Linked DNA regions of Homo sapiens: region 1 is linked to region 2. Evidence: fine-mapped expression QTL. A gene starts in region 2. The other region holds a variant in brackets. All regions are shown on one strand. Distances are from middle to middle.

Region 1 (8,000 bases), 23 kb after region 2:
CCCTGTTCTCATATTTCTATGAGGATGCCCCCTGGTCGAATTCCACCTCAGTGTGCCCTCTCTTTCTCTCTCTCATTCACTCCATCGTTTCCTCCTCTCTAGGGGAGTAGAGACATAATTCATCCATGAGTCTGGGGGATGGAATTGGCCCTTTGAGGGCCAATGCCCTCTGCCCTCCTCTCCAGTGTGGCACTGCCTGAAGGCCTGGGGGTGGTGGGGTGTCCTGGTTCACCCTTGGCTGCAGCCGAAGCTGCCTGGGGCAGGTTGTGCCACCAAGAAAGAGGCCAGCAGCTGTGAGCAGGTAGTTGATTCTGTCTAGTTTAGAAAGGGGTATCAAGTCACTTTATCCTGGCTTTTGAAGCTGACATTTTTATCTGCCTGTCCTGTCTTATTTCTTGTTTCATTCTGAACTGTGGAGGGGAGCTCGGGGGTGCCCCCAACCAAACCCCAACATAAACTCCATGAACACACAGGACATCTCGGTGCCCATCAGTGCCAGGTGTCTGTTGAATCTGCATCTGCAGAATCAAGAAAGGAGTGGTTTCCTCTGCCTCAGGTGGCGGGGAAAGCTCCTTGGTGGAGAGGACATTTGAAGGAAGCCTTGAGGGACACTGGGTGAGGACGAGTAGAATTCGCTGAGCAGGCAGCAGGGCAGGCTGAGGATGCCAGGCGGGAGCCAGGGTGCAAGTGAGTGTTGAGACTCGCGGCAGCCATGGGGGAGGAAGCCCAGAAGCAACAGAAGTTTCCCAGCCCACCACCCACGCACATGGGCCCTGAAATGAAGAGAGAATTAACTCATCTTCCCAGAAAGTGCTAGGACCATACAGTACTCCACTGCAACTATACCATTTTACATTTCCACTAACAGTACACAAAGCCTCCAGTTTCTCTACATCCTCATCAGCACTTGTTATTTTTGGTTTATTTGATAATAGCCATCTTGATGGGTGTAAGGTGGGCTGTCATAGCGGTTTTGATTTGCATTTCCCAAAGGATTAGTGATATTGGGCATTTCTTCATGTGCCTATGAGTCATTTGTCTATCTTTGGAGAAATGTCTACTGAAGTCTTTTGCCCACTTTTGAATCAGCTTGTTTTCTGTTGATACTGTTATTGTTCAGTTTTAGCAGTTCGCTATATATTCCAGATATTAATTCCTTATCAGATATGTGATTTGCAAATATTTTCTCCCATTCTGTGGATTGCTTTCTCACTCTCTTTAGTGTCCTTTGAAGCATAAAAGTTTTTGATTTTCATAAAATCCATTTGTCTATTTTTTCTTTTATTGCCTGTGGCTTTGGTGCCATAACCAGGAAATCATTTGCCAAATCCAAGTTTGTGAAGTTTTGCCCTTTGTTTTCTTCCACAAGTTGAATTATTTTGGGTCTAACATTGAGGTTTTTTACTCATTTTGAGTTTATTTTTGTATATGGTGGAAGATTAGGGTCCAACTTGATTGTTTTGCATGTGGATATCCAGCTTCCCCCACTATATGCTGAAAAACTGTCCTTTCCTCATTGAATGGTCTTGGCACCCTTGTGGAAGATGACCATACATGTAAGTGTTTATTTCTGGCCTCTGTGTTGTATTCCATTGGTCTATATGTCTGTCTTTATGCCAGTACTAAACTGTGTTGATTACTATCACTTTGTAGTATGTTTTGAAATCAGGAAGAGTGAGTCTTTAATTTTGTTCCTCCTTTTCAAGACTGTTTTGGCTATTTGGAGTCTCTTGGGATTCCACTTGAATTATAAAATGGATTTTTCACCCATTATCTTTTGCTTTTGGCCTTAGCTAGTGTTATGTCCCTTGTTTGGGCCTTCCTTTTCCACCTCAAATCATTCAAAATGCAGCTCAATTCCCACCTCCAATATTTCCCTGACTATCCCCACCATATTGATCTCCCTCCCCTGCGCCGCTGTTCACCTATCTCCTGCACCACCCATTGGAGACAGCATCCCACCAACTCTTCTCCCCTGTCCTTACCCTTCAAGCCTCAGCTGAAATGTCACTCATCCTAAAGCAGGGCTCTCTGTTGGGCTTTCTTGTAACATCTTTTCTATAAAGAACTCACCGTGATTAGTAATTAATTTACTTATAAGTTAATTCTTACACACACAGATTCTAAGACACACAATTCTTTCCCATTCTAACACCTGTGAAATAGAGAGCCGTGCTTTACAATTGGCGACATCCAACAATGACAGTCAGGCTTTTACTTCAGTGGTACATACATGGTGATATGTCTTATGATCAACCGTACTTTAGATGCAGTGAAACACAGTACATGTTTTCTTGTGCATTTACCTGTTTAATGCTCATCTTGTTGATTGTAAGTTGAGAGAGAATAGACCCCCAACTCAGCTCACCATCACACCCCAGCGCCTTTGGCATAGTTCATGTGCTTGTCAGCCATTTGATGGGTTGATGAATTATAAGTTCATCAATCATATTAATGAACTTATCAACATCAACTCATATTGATGGATTATAAGCTACTAAACACATTACGCTTTCCCAGGAGCCCCATAATTCCTAGAACAGTGCTACCTGCACTCAGATGCTTACCCAGTGCATATTTAAGCTAGATAACATCTATCACTCAGCTGCTCTGTGCTCTCTGGTAGAAATAAAAGGATTAATAATGCCTCATTCTTTTAGAGGAAGAAAGCCAAGTAAGTACTGTCGGAGAACCCAGTGGTTCCTGCTTTCTTTTCCTTGGCAAACAATAGGCCTGGCCTTTGTAAACTGAAATCTACACACTTCAAATATTTTATTTTGCTTTTGTGGCATCACACAGTGCCTTGGGGACATTACACAGGGGCCATATTAGAAAGTGATGTCAACTTTTTTTCAAGAGGGTTGGTGATCCTATCTGTTAAGAAAATGACACATTTCTACACTCTTAATAGCTGCTAACCATTTATAAACACATTGTCCCTACATATCAAATAAAACAAATCTTGGATAAGCAGGAAATTAAATTTGTCCTCTTGTGAGGGGACACTGAGTTCCTGGTCTGGGCTTGTCAAGGATGAAAACATGGAGGAGGCGCTTGGGCCAGATGAGCACAAGTTCTTCAGCACCTGCCCTGTGCTGACAAAGGGGCCCGCAGGGAGGCAAAAAGAAGCAAGAAGAGGCTTCATAGGAACCAGGTTGTTTCATTTCTGTTTGTTTATTCTCTCCCAAACTCAAAAGAGGAGGCCTATTTTGCGGTTGATTCTTGCACCATTTGAGAAATTCACTCGTTATGTAAATGTTTCTATTCGTAGTAAGTAGCTTTTGCAAAGAAGGGGAAATAATGACATTAGTAGTGAAAGATTTTTTCCCTAATCTCTTGAGGATCAAAACCTGTGTAAATTACAATATAAATGTCACAGCAATGGCAAACTGCTATACAAGTTTCTAAGTAATAATAACGGGTGCCATTTTTTGAGCACCAACTATGCACCAGCACTGGTTTAGGCTACTTCATACACTGGGTCATGTTGATTCATCTTCGTAACAATCCTACGTAATCTCCATGTACATAAGCTCATGAAACGGGGGCAGTGTGGGCAAGCCACTTACCCCAGGGCAGAGAGCTAATAAGGGCAGACCAGTGATGGAAACTCAGACTTTCTCTCAATTGTCCTGAAGAAATAGGTGTATTCTACTTATCTAGCAACGGCTGCTGGTGGCAGGGAGTCTGCTGGCAGGAACTGGCTGGTCCTGCACCATCTCTGCTCATTCCTCCCATCACAAGGGGTAAGGGTGGGGAGGAAGGAAGAGTAAAAAGGACACTGTGGTGGTGGGGGCTGGTTACTGATGGAGAAGAGCCATCAGCGATGGGGACTGAGGGGAGGGAAAGAAGAAATGATACCCAGTCACTCGATTAATGACAGAGGTACGTTCTGAGAATTGTGTCATTAGCCAATTTTGTTATTGTGGGAACATCATAGGGTGTACCCACACAAACCAATGGAATAGCCTACTGCACACCTAAGCTGTGTGGTGTAGC[C/T]TATCGCTCCGAGGCCACAAACCTGTACAGCATGTGACTGTACTGATTACTGAAGGCAACTGTAACATAATGGTAAGAATTTGCATATCTAAACATACCAAAGGTATGGTAAAAATATGGCATTATAATCTTATGGTACCACCGTTGGATATGCAGTTCATCATTGACAGAAATGTCTTTATGACTGCATTAGGCAAAAGTGAAATTAAAAGGAAAGGATAGGAAAGACAAGTGAGAAGAAAATGTAGCCAGTAGAAGCCAAGAAAGAAAAGAGCAAAGGAGGAATCAAAAAGGTAATCCATGGCTAGGCATGGTGCCTCACGCCTGTAATCCCAGCACTTTGGGAGGCCAAGGCAGGAGGATCACTTGAGGCCAGAATTCAAGACCAGCCTGGCCAACATGCCCATTTCTATGAAAAATTTAACAATTAGCCAGGTGTGGTGGTGCACGCCTGTGGTCACAGCTACTTGAGAGGCTGGGGCAGGAGGATCACTTGAGCCTCGGAGGTTGAGACTGCAGTGAGCTGTGTTGGCACCATTGCACTCCAGCCTGCGTGGAAAAAAAAAAAAAAAGTAATCCATGAACAAATCCTGTTCAACCAACACCAAAAGCAGCAAAGCCTCCCAGGCTCAGTTCCTGGGTTCTGTGGCACCATCTCTCCGTCTGTCCTCCCTGTAGGACACAGGTATTTTAAGGAGCTGGAGAAGGGAGCCCAGGGCACATCTGTTCCTCCTCAGTCTTCTTCAGTCCCAGCCTCCCAAGAGTTCGCAGGGCTAGTCGCCTCACAGTGTCGCCCACCAGCTGACTCCAAGACGCACCCTTCCCTGCTGCACTTTACATGGATGGCTCGCTTAACAAATTTCCAGCATCCACCAGGTCCTCCAAAGGGTTTTATCTAACACTTCTAACATCCAGCCTTAATTTAATCTGAACTCTTCTTCCCTTCCAGGAAGTTACTTCCCATCACCTCATAGATGCATTTCCTGGCCACCTTCTCAGAGACACACTCCACAGACATCCCACCCACTACCTTTGGAAACCACCACATCCTGAAGCCACTTCTTGACAACTCTAGTTGGGTATATGTAATGGGTTTAAGCAAAAGCTGTTCTCCAGGAACTTCTGCCCACAGGTCATGGTTGTCCTTTTGGTGGACATACAAAGCCAGCCTAAACTTTTTGACACACACAAATATATACACACACATACATACACATATGACTGTGTTTACACACACACACACACAGCTGGTTAAGAGCAAGGGCTTGGGGCCGCAGATTCATATTAACATCCTGACCCTGCCCCATTCTAGCTGTGTGGCCTTCGGCAAGTTAATTAACCTTCCTGAGCCTCCGTTTCTTCATATGACCCTCACTGGGCTGCTGTGAGGATTAAGTGAGCTAATATATGTAAGTGTCTTGGCCCAGTGTCTGGCATGTAACCAGTACTCATTAAATGGACAGGGGTCTTCTCTGAGTCCTTTCTCTTAGGGAAATATTCCCACTCCCTTCAACCCCTCTTTATAGTTTGTGGTTTTTCAGTCCTCTCTGTATCCTTTTAAATGGGCCAGTCACCTTTTAAATGGGTGATGTTCCATTGTTTAAATAGATTGGATTTTTCACTGGACTCTGTCCAAAACTAAACACACTCCTGGAAACGTGGCTGGCACAGCAACAGTGGAGAGCCACCTCCTCGCTGTGGACACAACCGCCAGCGGTCAATCCGCTTCCCTCAACACCGTCATGTCCACACAGGGACCTGGGCTGCTGGATTCCTAATCAGTGACACTGAGCTTTTATATAACATCAAAGAGGGATTTGTGCTTATACTTCTTAAAAGGCATGTTTTTGTGGTTTGACTGTCCTCCTAGCCTGACACAGTCTGAGCCTCCTCAGGCGGCCTCAGGGGTTGGGATAGAGTGGAGAATTCAGGCAAGAATGCCAACCCTAGCTCCAGGCCTGGGACCCACAGGCCTGGGGAAAAGAGTGGTTGCCCCGTCTTGAGACAGCCGAAAACTGTGTCCCCAGGATTGTTGGTTTCATAAAAGCAAGTAGCTAGGGAGGCCACATTTACAGGGGATCACAGAACACTTGGGTAGGGGCTTGCTGTAGGTGTCATCAGGGAAGTGGGGGACGGCAGGAGGGATGTGGCCCAGTACGCAGATGAAGACAGGTGATCATCCGCTGGGCCACACGTGGCAGGGATATGGGCAGAGTGAGCTTGGCTGGCCCCAGGCTCCAAAGCTGCCCAGCCCCCGCTGAAGGTGAGGCCTCAGCTGGTGGGAATGTCACCTTCCAGGTGACTGGCTGGCTCCAAAGGCCTTTGCATGATCTCCAGGAGTTTGGAGGGGAGAGGCCACATTCCAAATCCAGCTTGAAAAGTGCTCTGTATCACCCTCAGCACTGAGGGGGCCAGAGTCTAGGAGGAAGGAGGCACAGGGTTGGGGGGCAGCCCTGACCTGGTGGCCGCACCTGCCAGGTCCCGAGAGACAACCCATCTCACACACATTCAAAAACACACACCAGGGAGCACATGGCTAAACAAATCGCACTAAACGCCAGGAAGGCAGAGGGGCTGGAATGCAAAACACCCCCTGAAAAATAAATCTCTGCTGGGGCACATTTCGAAGTTTTGCCTTAATCGTTCAGGTCGCCCTCCTGTTCTTCTCACTTTACAACTTCAGCCTGAGACACATTGACCACCTTCCACCAAAGTAGACCATGCTCTTGAATAAGTCACATATCCTTTCTCTACTTGGTTTCTTTAATTTTTGTTTATTTTCTTTTTGTAAGACAGGGTCTCACTCTGTCACCTAGGCTGGAGTGCAGTGGCAGGATCATAGGTCACTGCAGCCTCAAAATCCTAGGCTCAAAGCAATCCTCCCACCTCAGCCTCCCCAGCAGCTGGGGCTATGGCACATGTTACTGCCTTCAGCTAACTTTTTTTATTTTTTGTAGAGACAGGGTCTTGCTTTGTTGTCCAGGCTGGTCTCAAACTCCTGGCCTCAAGCAATCCTCCTGCCTCCACCTCTCGAAGCGCTGGGATTACAGGCATGCACCACCACACTCTACCTGTTTTCTTAATTTTTAAAATGAGGGTAATAGTGTTAACACTTCCCCGGAAGATTACTTCCCCAGAAGAAATGATAAAGCACCACCTTTTCCCTCCCAATTTTCATGAAAATAAACTCCTTCAGCTTGTGAACACCACCAAATTTAAATTCTGTCATTTGAGATCCTCAGGCAAGGCAAATTCTCAGACCCTGTGAGGCTCACCAGGAGGCGAGGAGCTCTTCTTGTACCTAGGGGTGGTGAGGAGTGGATCATCTTGCCCAGTCGGGCTGGGCGCAGGCATGGGGATCCTCCAGGACCGTGGCCCATTCCCTCAGAACCACAGGCTGACGACTTCACATCACTGATGTTAGCCCTTTCTAGATGTTACCACGACTTTTACTGATTTATGGATGACTAAGTTCTTTTCCTAGTCAACCTCAGAAGTCTCACAGTGCTACACAGAAAGAACTAGGTTGATACCTGCAAGGTCAGAGCCCATACTCCCATAAGCTATTTACCAGCAGTGACACATGTCTGCAAACCATTTCACCTCCCCATCTCTCAACGTATTCCTCTGTGAAATGGGAAATGATCCCTGCCCTTCCTTCCTCACACGTTTGTTTTGAAGCTCAAATAAGATCAAGCACTTTGAAAACGTTAAAACACCAAGCAGTGGTGAAGGGTTATATTATTATTATCAGAAACAAGTCTGTTCTCAGCCAAGGCTGTCTTTATTTCTGAAGTACGTGAAATACCAGGACAAGGCTTGTTCTACCTGATGATAACTGACAATAACTGAGCAGACAAGGACTCTGACACTCTTGCTTGTCTATGGTTTATCAGTGGTTCTCCTACCTGCTTTAGGAATCACACTGACCCTCTTCCACATGAGGAGATCTAATTTTCTAATTCGGCTGCTGCCCAAGTGCTTTTTTGGTTTTTGTTTTT
Region 2 (8,000 bases):
AGCAACACCAGACTAGAAGAAAAGCTTACCTATAGATTTTTCTGCCACCTCTTGAGTGCGTCCAGCTTTCCGACAAGTCTCAGTGCCATCTACTGTGCGCTCTGGGTATTGCAATTGCTTTTTTTTTTTTTTTTTTTTTTTTTTTAGAATGAGACTAAGTCAGAGAACACAAAGAACTTCTTTCCCCACAGTGGAGATGGCTCTGAAAGCGTTTAAGGAATAGCTTAGATGAGTGGCTAACACATTCTCCCGGTTCTGAATTCTAAGACCACAGACTCCATGTCCAGTCCCCAAAGAGAGGCTTTGCAAGCTACAGAATACCCCTCTGACTGGGACCTCAGGAGCTAAACTGACCACGTAATTGGTTCTAGAAAGTGAAACGTTTTAATTTGAAACATCCAAATGAGCATTTTGTGAAAAGCTACTGCCGTCCATCAAATACAACACAGCCAGGGAGTCATCGCTCTATTGCCCTTGTCAATCCTACATCTATAGTTTTTTTTGCTACAGCAGTTCATGAGTGTTGACTCTATTCTAACTTGTTCCAGAAGCCCTTCAAGATGATAGATAGCACAATATTTTTGTAGCCAGAGCTAGAATGTAGAGCTCTTTTTGGCTTCCTTGTGAATGATCCAGAATTTCCATGTTGGCAAGCCACCATAATTTACAGAATTTACTTTTTATATTCAATAGAAGTAAAAAAAATTTACCTATTTAAGGAGTTATAGCTCTGGATTCATTTCTGACCAAAATGTGCTTTTTGACACAAATACAATTGGAAATGTCTTTGTAATTTATCCACAGTCTGCCTAGATAATCATAAAAGAACTGCATGGATATATTTGTGAGTAAGAGCACGTGTCCATTCAGCAAAACCAAGGAGATCAACTAATTCTACCATTGCCTTGAAACGGAGACACATCTAGCAGTTTGAATTTCCCCCAAAAGATTGTATGTGTGAAAATAAGAATAGAATGAGGAAAATTTAAAAGCCTATATAATAATTTCAGTCACAACTTGGCAATTAGAATTTTATGAGATGTCTTTAATTTGGAAGCAAAGAACAATTAAATTATTGAAGGCTGGAATTTTTTTTTAACTCTTTGAATGGAACAACAGATTTTCCCCAAAAGATTTGACTTTAACAATTTTCAGAAAACATAAGTCAGGGTGTGGTTCAATTACACAGAGAGAAATTGTAGTGAAATAGTGTTCCCTGTAATAATTACCCACAAAGGAGCACAGTGGAGCCACTCCTGCATTAAAATTACAGTATCATATGTAAGTTATTATTAATTAACCAGAGATGCCAGGAGCTTGTCAGTTTCCAACTGCTATTTTGAGGAGAGCTAAAGTTTCTCTTTTTTTGCCAGTTATTATTATTATTAATATTTCAACAGCAAGGCAAGAAAAGGGAATGTGGTCCATTAACTAATGGCTCTTGAAAAGACACTCAATGAATCCAACTTGCCCTAAAACTGCCAAGTGGTAGGACAGTCTCTTCGCGTCTTGCATCATTTTCTGCCATCACCTACGTGTGATTCGTGAGTCGGAAATTCAACCAAGACATGTTTAATGTATATTTAGAGCATTCTTCCCGGCGGGAATTCACGGTGCCATTCCATCAGGCAGTTGGCAAGCAGTCACTTGAAATATTAAGAAATATGATTTGTGTCACACTGATTTATTGCAAAACAGCAACTTCTTTCTTTTTGGTTCATTTATAAAACAACTGTCAAATTAAAATGCCAAATAGCTTTAAACATTAGCATTTTCACCTTATAACCTTACAAGTGCATCACTTTAAACATCTGAGTAAAAGTTCAGCTCGATGACAATCACCTGGGATTTACCTGCATGGTACTAAGCATATATGTAAAAATATTACTGATGGGTATCTCTGGCACTCTGAAGTGACAAAGTGTAGCCTTCACAGATCTTTGTCAGTTAATCATCAATAGTTACCTGAAAAGTGCCCACTTGCCATCATTCAAGATCAACCAGGCAGACACCACAGTGAGTTTTCCATCAAAAAACCTTCTCTATCTGGTCAGTCTCTGCACGTCAATGAGACAAAGGTGTATGCTGCACGCAGCAGTACTATCCTAAGCTCCCTGTGTCCTCACCATGGGGCTGGGTGGCTGGGGTGGAGGAACACAGGATTGGGCTTCAGCTTCTCTAGGGACTGGTACATTAAGAGATGAAGACATAAAAGGTGAGAAAAACATGGTTTATTTCCAATGTTTCCATTTCTGTTAAAAGTAATGCTTTCAACAGAAAAAAAATGCAGCAATATAAGTGTGTAATTTACAAAATAATTTCAGGATTTCTTTAATCATTAATTTGTGGTGTCATCTGTTAACTGGATTTACGTCTAAGCTCATTTGTAAATAACTTCAAATATCCAAGCCTTCCCTCACCCTTTTCCCACCTCACCTCTCCTCCTTCTCCTCCCCTACACTGGAGGACACTATGTACATGCATATAATGTCCTGCCCTAGAGGAGTCCTGAGCCTACTTGGGAAGAAAACACCAACTCACAGGAAAACAGCAGAAATCACACAAAACAGAATAAAAGCAAGCGCTGATCTGTAAGTGAAGACTTAAGTGCTATAGGACTTCCAGCTACAAATCCTGAAAACACGGAGTGGCTGTGATAATACGACTAGCCAACATCACACAGTAATTTTGCACATAAGGAGAACTAAATCAAAGAAAACAAGGAAAAGAAAGTTGAGCCTATAATCGTGATACAGGCACTAAAATCTCAGGTGACATTTTTCAATGGGGGAAAGTCAGTCAACTTCCGATCTCCAAACCATCTTTACTAGCGAGCTTCCCACAATGGTTCTAGAACCTTCCTTCATTCCAACCCAACCAGGATTCCAACAGACTCATAAACACCACAGCCTTTGAGAAATTAAAGGGAGAACCCACCAACCGGCGCCCCACTCCCCACCCCAAGTCACCTCTGGCTCAACCAAGATGCGCTCAGGCCAAGAAAGCTGCCCCACCCCACAGGCTTTGCCTGTCATTTTTAACAAGCCGACTCAGCACATCTCTCAGATGGGCCATGCAAGGCTTTTCGCAGCTCCTGGGGCTTTGCCTCTTCATGAGCAGACACTCCCTCTTAGACTAAGACCTGGAGCTGGAAAGTAGGTGGTAACCGCGGTACAAAACTCACGCTCGTCCCTGCAGAAACTGCCTAGGTCGGCCCATGGCCACGGGGCGCCAATTTTTCAAGGAAAAGTCAATGCTAATAATGGTGGCAATCACGGGAAATCCATTCTGAGGCCAGATCTGACTTGTCAGGATTAATCATCATTTCCACTTAACTTCGAACTGACCTGGGTAAAAACGTGAGCGCGAGGGGACCAGGCTGCACCTCTGACCTGGCTCCCCTCTGCAAAAATCGCGAAGTGGGTGCCCGAGGTGGGGCGGGGGTTGGGGGAGACCTCCCCGGGAGTCCCCACCCAGCCTGCTCTGCACATCTTAGTCCCTCATCCGCTTGCGCTGTGCAAATCTGTCTTCTGTCATTTGTATCGCAAGACATCAAAATCCCCAACCAAATGCAAATACTGAGACCTCATAATCTGAGACAAAGTTTCACGGTATCCAGAAAGCCCCCAGCAGGTGTGCAGTGCAGAGCCAGCCCCCCAGCGGTCTTCCGCAGAATCCTATCAGTTTCCCCCTTTCGTGCTGTGTGCATCGAGCAGGAAGGGGCTTGGCAGGTTTTACCTGCCCTCTTTCCTTTCTGAAAAGTCTGGGCCTCCTCACCCCGAAAGGAGTCACCTCCTTGCAGTTCCCCAGTTGCGAAAAGAGGAGGAAGTTGGCTGGGCCGGGGGCCGCGGGGGGCACCCTCCGCAGATGGCGGGACCCCCCTGCCGGCCATGGCAAAAACGAGGCTTGTCTCTCCCACCGCCCCCAACCTTAGTCCTTGGCACATTGTTGAAAGTAATTGAATAAAATCGGAAATTCGAGAAGGCGTTCGTTCGGATTGGTGAGATTTTGAGGGGAGAAAGAAGCGGGGACTTCGCCGGCACCAGCGGCGCCCCCTCCTCGGCCACCGTTAACCCCCATTCCAGAGGGCACTGCCCCGCCACCCAGCCTAGGTCCCCCTGCGAGAGCCTCGCGGGCCCGCGCAGCCTCCGCGACTCGAACAGATCTTCAGTCCTTGGAGGAATGCCTGTTTCTCTAACAATAAAAAATTAAAGAAGCGCTCATAAATGCCAAGTCCTCTCGCACTATGCGGAGTACAGAGGACAACGACCACAGCCATCCCTGAACCCCGCCCACGGCACAGCGCCGGAGCCGGGGTCTGGGGCGCCGCTTCCTGGGGGGTCCCGACTCTCAGCCGCCCCCGCTTCACCCGGGCCGCCAAGGGGCTGGGGGAGGCGGCGCTCGGGGTAACCGGGGGAGACTCAGGGCGCTGGGGGCACTTGGGGAACTCATGGGGGCTCAAAGGAACTAGGAGATCGGGACCTCGAAGGGGACTTGGGGGGTTCGGGGCTTTCGGGGGCGGTCGGGGGTTCGCGGACCCGGGAAGCTCTGAGGACCCAGAGGCCGGGCGCGCTCCGCCCGCGGCGCCGCCCCCTCCGTAACTTTCCCAGTCTCCGAGGGAAGAGGCGGGGTGTGGGGTGCGGTTAAAAGGCGCCACGGCGGGAGACAGGTGTTGCGGCCCCGCAGCGCCCGCGCGCTCCTCTCCCCGACTCGGAGCCCCTCGGCGGCGCCCGGCCCAGGACCCGCCTAGGAGCGCAGGAGCCCCAGCGCAGAGACCCCAACGCCGAGACCCCCGCCCCGGCCCCGCCGCGCTTCCTCCCGACGCAGGTGAGCCCGCCGGCCCCGGACTGCCCGGCCAGGAACCTGGCGCGGGGAGGGACCGCGAGACCCAGAGCGGTTGCCCGGCCGCGTGGGTCTCGGGGAACCGGGGGGCTGGACCAACACACGTCCTTGGGCCGGGGGGCGGGGGCCGCCTTCTGGAGCGGGCGTTTCTGCGGCCGAGCTCCGGAGCTGGAATGGGGCGGCCGGGGAAGTGGACGCGATGGCACCGCCCGGGGTGCGAGTGGGGCCGGGCGCGCGCGGGAGGGGAAAAAGGCGCGGGCGAGCCGCCAGCGCGAGGTTTGTGGTGTCGCCGATGTCCCTTCGGGGTACTCTAGCGCAGCCGCCTGGCTACTTGACCCACTGCCACCAAACGTTTTAAATTCACCGAAAGCTTAGCTTCGAAGCAAAGCTCCGTTTCGCCGGTGAAGCAGGAAGCCTTCGCTGCAGGAACTGACCTTTACCTCTTGGAGCGGCTTCTGCAGAAAAATCCCCGGGCAGAGATTTGGGCGGAGTTTGCCTAGAACTAACGCGGAGCCAGCCGATCCCGGCCTACCCCGGGGCCAAGATTTCAGTGGCTTCCCTTTTTCCTAAACACTTCACGAGGGTCTGTTTCCGGGCTGTGCTCCCCGCCTAGAAGGAAAATTTTTAGGACCCTTGTTCGCGAAGAGGTGGTGTGCGGCTGAGACCCGCGTCCTCAGGACGGTTCCATCAGTGCCTCGATCCTGCCCCACTGGAGGAGGAAGGCAGCCCGAACAGCGCTCACCTAACTAACAGCTGCTGAGAGCTGGGTTCCGTGGCCATGCACCTGGGACTGCCTTGAGAAGCGTGGTACGGCCGTGTCCCCATGTGACCTTAGAGTCCCTTTCGAAACTGCTGTGCACAGTCGGTCACAATTTCAGACACTGGTGAGAAGGGTGGAGGAACCCTCTGGGGACAGCCAGGCAAGGTCGACCACCCATCACCTAAGGGTGGAGAAATTTAAGGGGTGAAGAGTCCCTTTTGCCTTTTCTGGATCCTGGTGATTCACCTAGTGTCTTCCCTAAGGAACTGAACCAACTCCTCCGCTGGCCTCTGGCAGCCCTCCAGGCGGTGCAGGATGGCGTGGGCCCGGTAGGAAGCTGCATGTAACCGCCCAGGGTCGGGAGGCCAGGAGGGCAGCTCCTCCTCTGACTTGAATATTGAAAACAACTTCGTCCTGCTTCTGAGCCCCTCTTAACCCATGACCCCCTAGCCCATTGGGGAGTAAATCTTAATTTACTCCTCTTCCTGAAAAAGGATCTTTAAAACAGGTAGCTTCAACTCAAGCTTTATAAAATAACAATATAGGGTTTCTCGGAACTGTATTTTTCTCAGCTGATGGTAACTGGACAGGTCTGTAGAAGGGTGTATGACCTGGGTTTGGCAGGTGGAAGAGGGCAAAGGATAAACCCCTCCTCCTGCAGCCCCATATTCTTGGCCAGGTGTATTGTTGTAAACCAGGAGAGAGTTTACTTCGGGGAGTATCCTGTTTTCCACTCAGTGAGGGCCAATGAAGAATGTCTAATTCCATAAGATGCTTTTGTTAAAATCGGAATGTTGCTGTCCTCGGTGGTTCTGCTGTTGGGACGGGACTGGCCTGAGCTGTGGGTGCTGTAGCAGGACAACCAGCTCACCTAAGGGCCTCCCAGTCTGGATTATCAATGGGTCAGTGCTGAACCTGGGCTAAAATATTGTTTTTTCCAATGATGTTGTCTTTCCCAAGCTCAGTGAAGCTAAATGTTTCACAGGCCTATGTCAATCTGATGTAACTTTCGTGGCCACCTCTCTCCTGTTAGCCTCTGACCAAGGTGGCACTGGATGGTTTCTGCCTGACCTTGGTGCCCCGTGGCAGCGACTGTGGGTCATGAAAGACATTCACTACGAGCCTGCTTCTGGAGTCCATCAGAAAACGGGATGCAACTTGCCTAAAATGAGGAGAGGAGGATGCTTTTAAGAAAAAGAAGAAGGAGGATTCACTACCAGCTCTGAAGGGTGGAAAAGAGATGATTCATCCGGATTGTGGAGAGGGTGGAATCTTGTTTAGGAGAGCGTTGGTTGTGGCAGGCAGGGTGTAACTATGAATCAGTGAAGACAATTCACATCCTGGGATGAAAAGAAGGCCATGGGCTCACAGGAGATTATCCACTGGCCTCTCCACATCCGCTTGCAGTAAGGAGTGTGGGACTCTCCCAAGCTTCAGCGCTGAACTGCAATGCAGTGACGTCGCTTAGCTGGGCCAGTAACCGAGGGAGTTGAATTTTCTGTCATTTTAAAATAATGTGTCTTTTAAGAAACACTTTGAAATTAAAACCACAGCCCACAATTATAATGCACTGTTGCAGCACTTATCAAAACAGATATGCTAACTGAGCCATCAGTGCCAGCCTGACAGTGAGGCCACCAAGCCATCCACAAAGCCTACACGAAAGTCTGTGCTCACAGTGGCTTTTCTCCATGAAGAGGGCATTCCTAACCTCTTCCTTTCACGTAGGAGGAAGCAAGGTCCTTTGTAAAATTTTAACTCGGGGTGCCTCAAATGTAAACTTAACCACTGGTAACAACAGTTTCACTGCTACATGCCACGTCTGTGAAAATTCATTCAAGACATTAAGGAAAGTGGCTCAGCAGAGAGACTAGACATCTTATCCTCACGGTTCTCCTGTACTTGGCCTCTCAGCCTTTGAGCAAGGTTGGCCCAAGCTAGTATCGGCCCCAGTGGTACAGCCAAAACTTGAGACTGCAAATGGATGCAGCTGTTGAACGCTGAGTAACTTCTGCAGAGTCAGGAAGACCCAAGGAAGCTCTGCAGAGGATGCAGGGGTACGGTCAGAACCCCTGAGTGCCTTTCAGCTAACGAGGACTTTATGACACTCCCCAGCACAGCAAATTTTTATGATGTGTTTAAAGATTGGGTGAATTACTCAGGTGAACAAGCTACTTTTTATCAGAGAACACCTAAAAACACGTTCAAGAGGGTTTGGGAACTATACATTTAATCCTATGACAAACTAAGTTGGTTCTGTCTTCACCTGTTTTGGTGAGGTTGTGTAAGAGTTGGTGTTTGCTCAGGAAGAGATTTAAGCATGCTTGCTTACCCAGACTCAGAGAAGTCTCCCTGTTCTGTCCTAGCTAGTGATTCCTGTGTTGTGTGCATTCGTCTT

What was found.
Region 1: its variant is fine-mapped to the expression of GJB2 in monocytes after LPS (Fairfax 2014, PIP 0.93).

Annotation. Positions count from the first base shown.
Region 1 is chr13:20,166,313-20,174,312 of GRCh38, reverse strand. No RefSeq gene overlaps it. Among named protein-coding and RNA genes, the nearest start is that of GJA3, 9.3 kb to the right of the region's middle. The variant C/T (reference allele first, on the strand shown) is at 4,000.
Region 2 is chr13:20,189,610-20,197,609 of GRCh38, reverse strand. It overlaps GJB2 (gap junction protein beta 2), which reads left to right and starts at 4,672. Exons shown (of 2, transcript NM_004004.6): 1 at 4,672-4,827.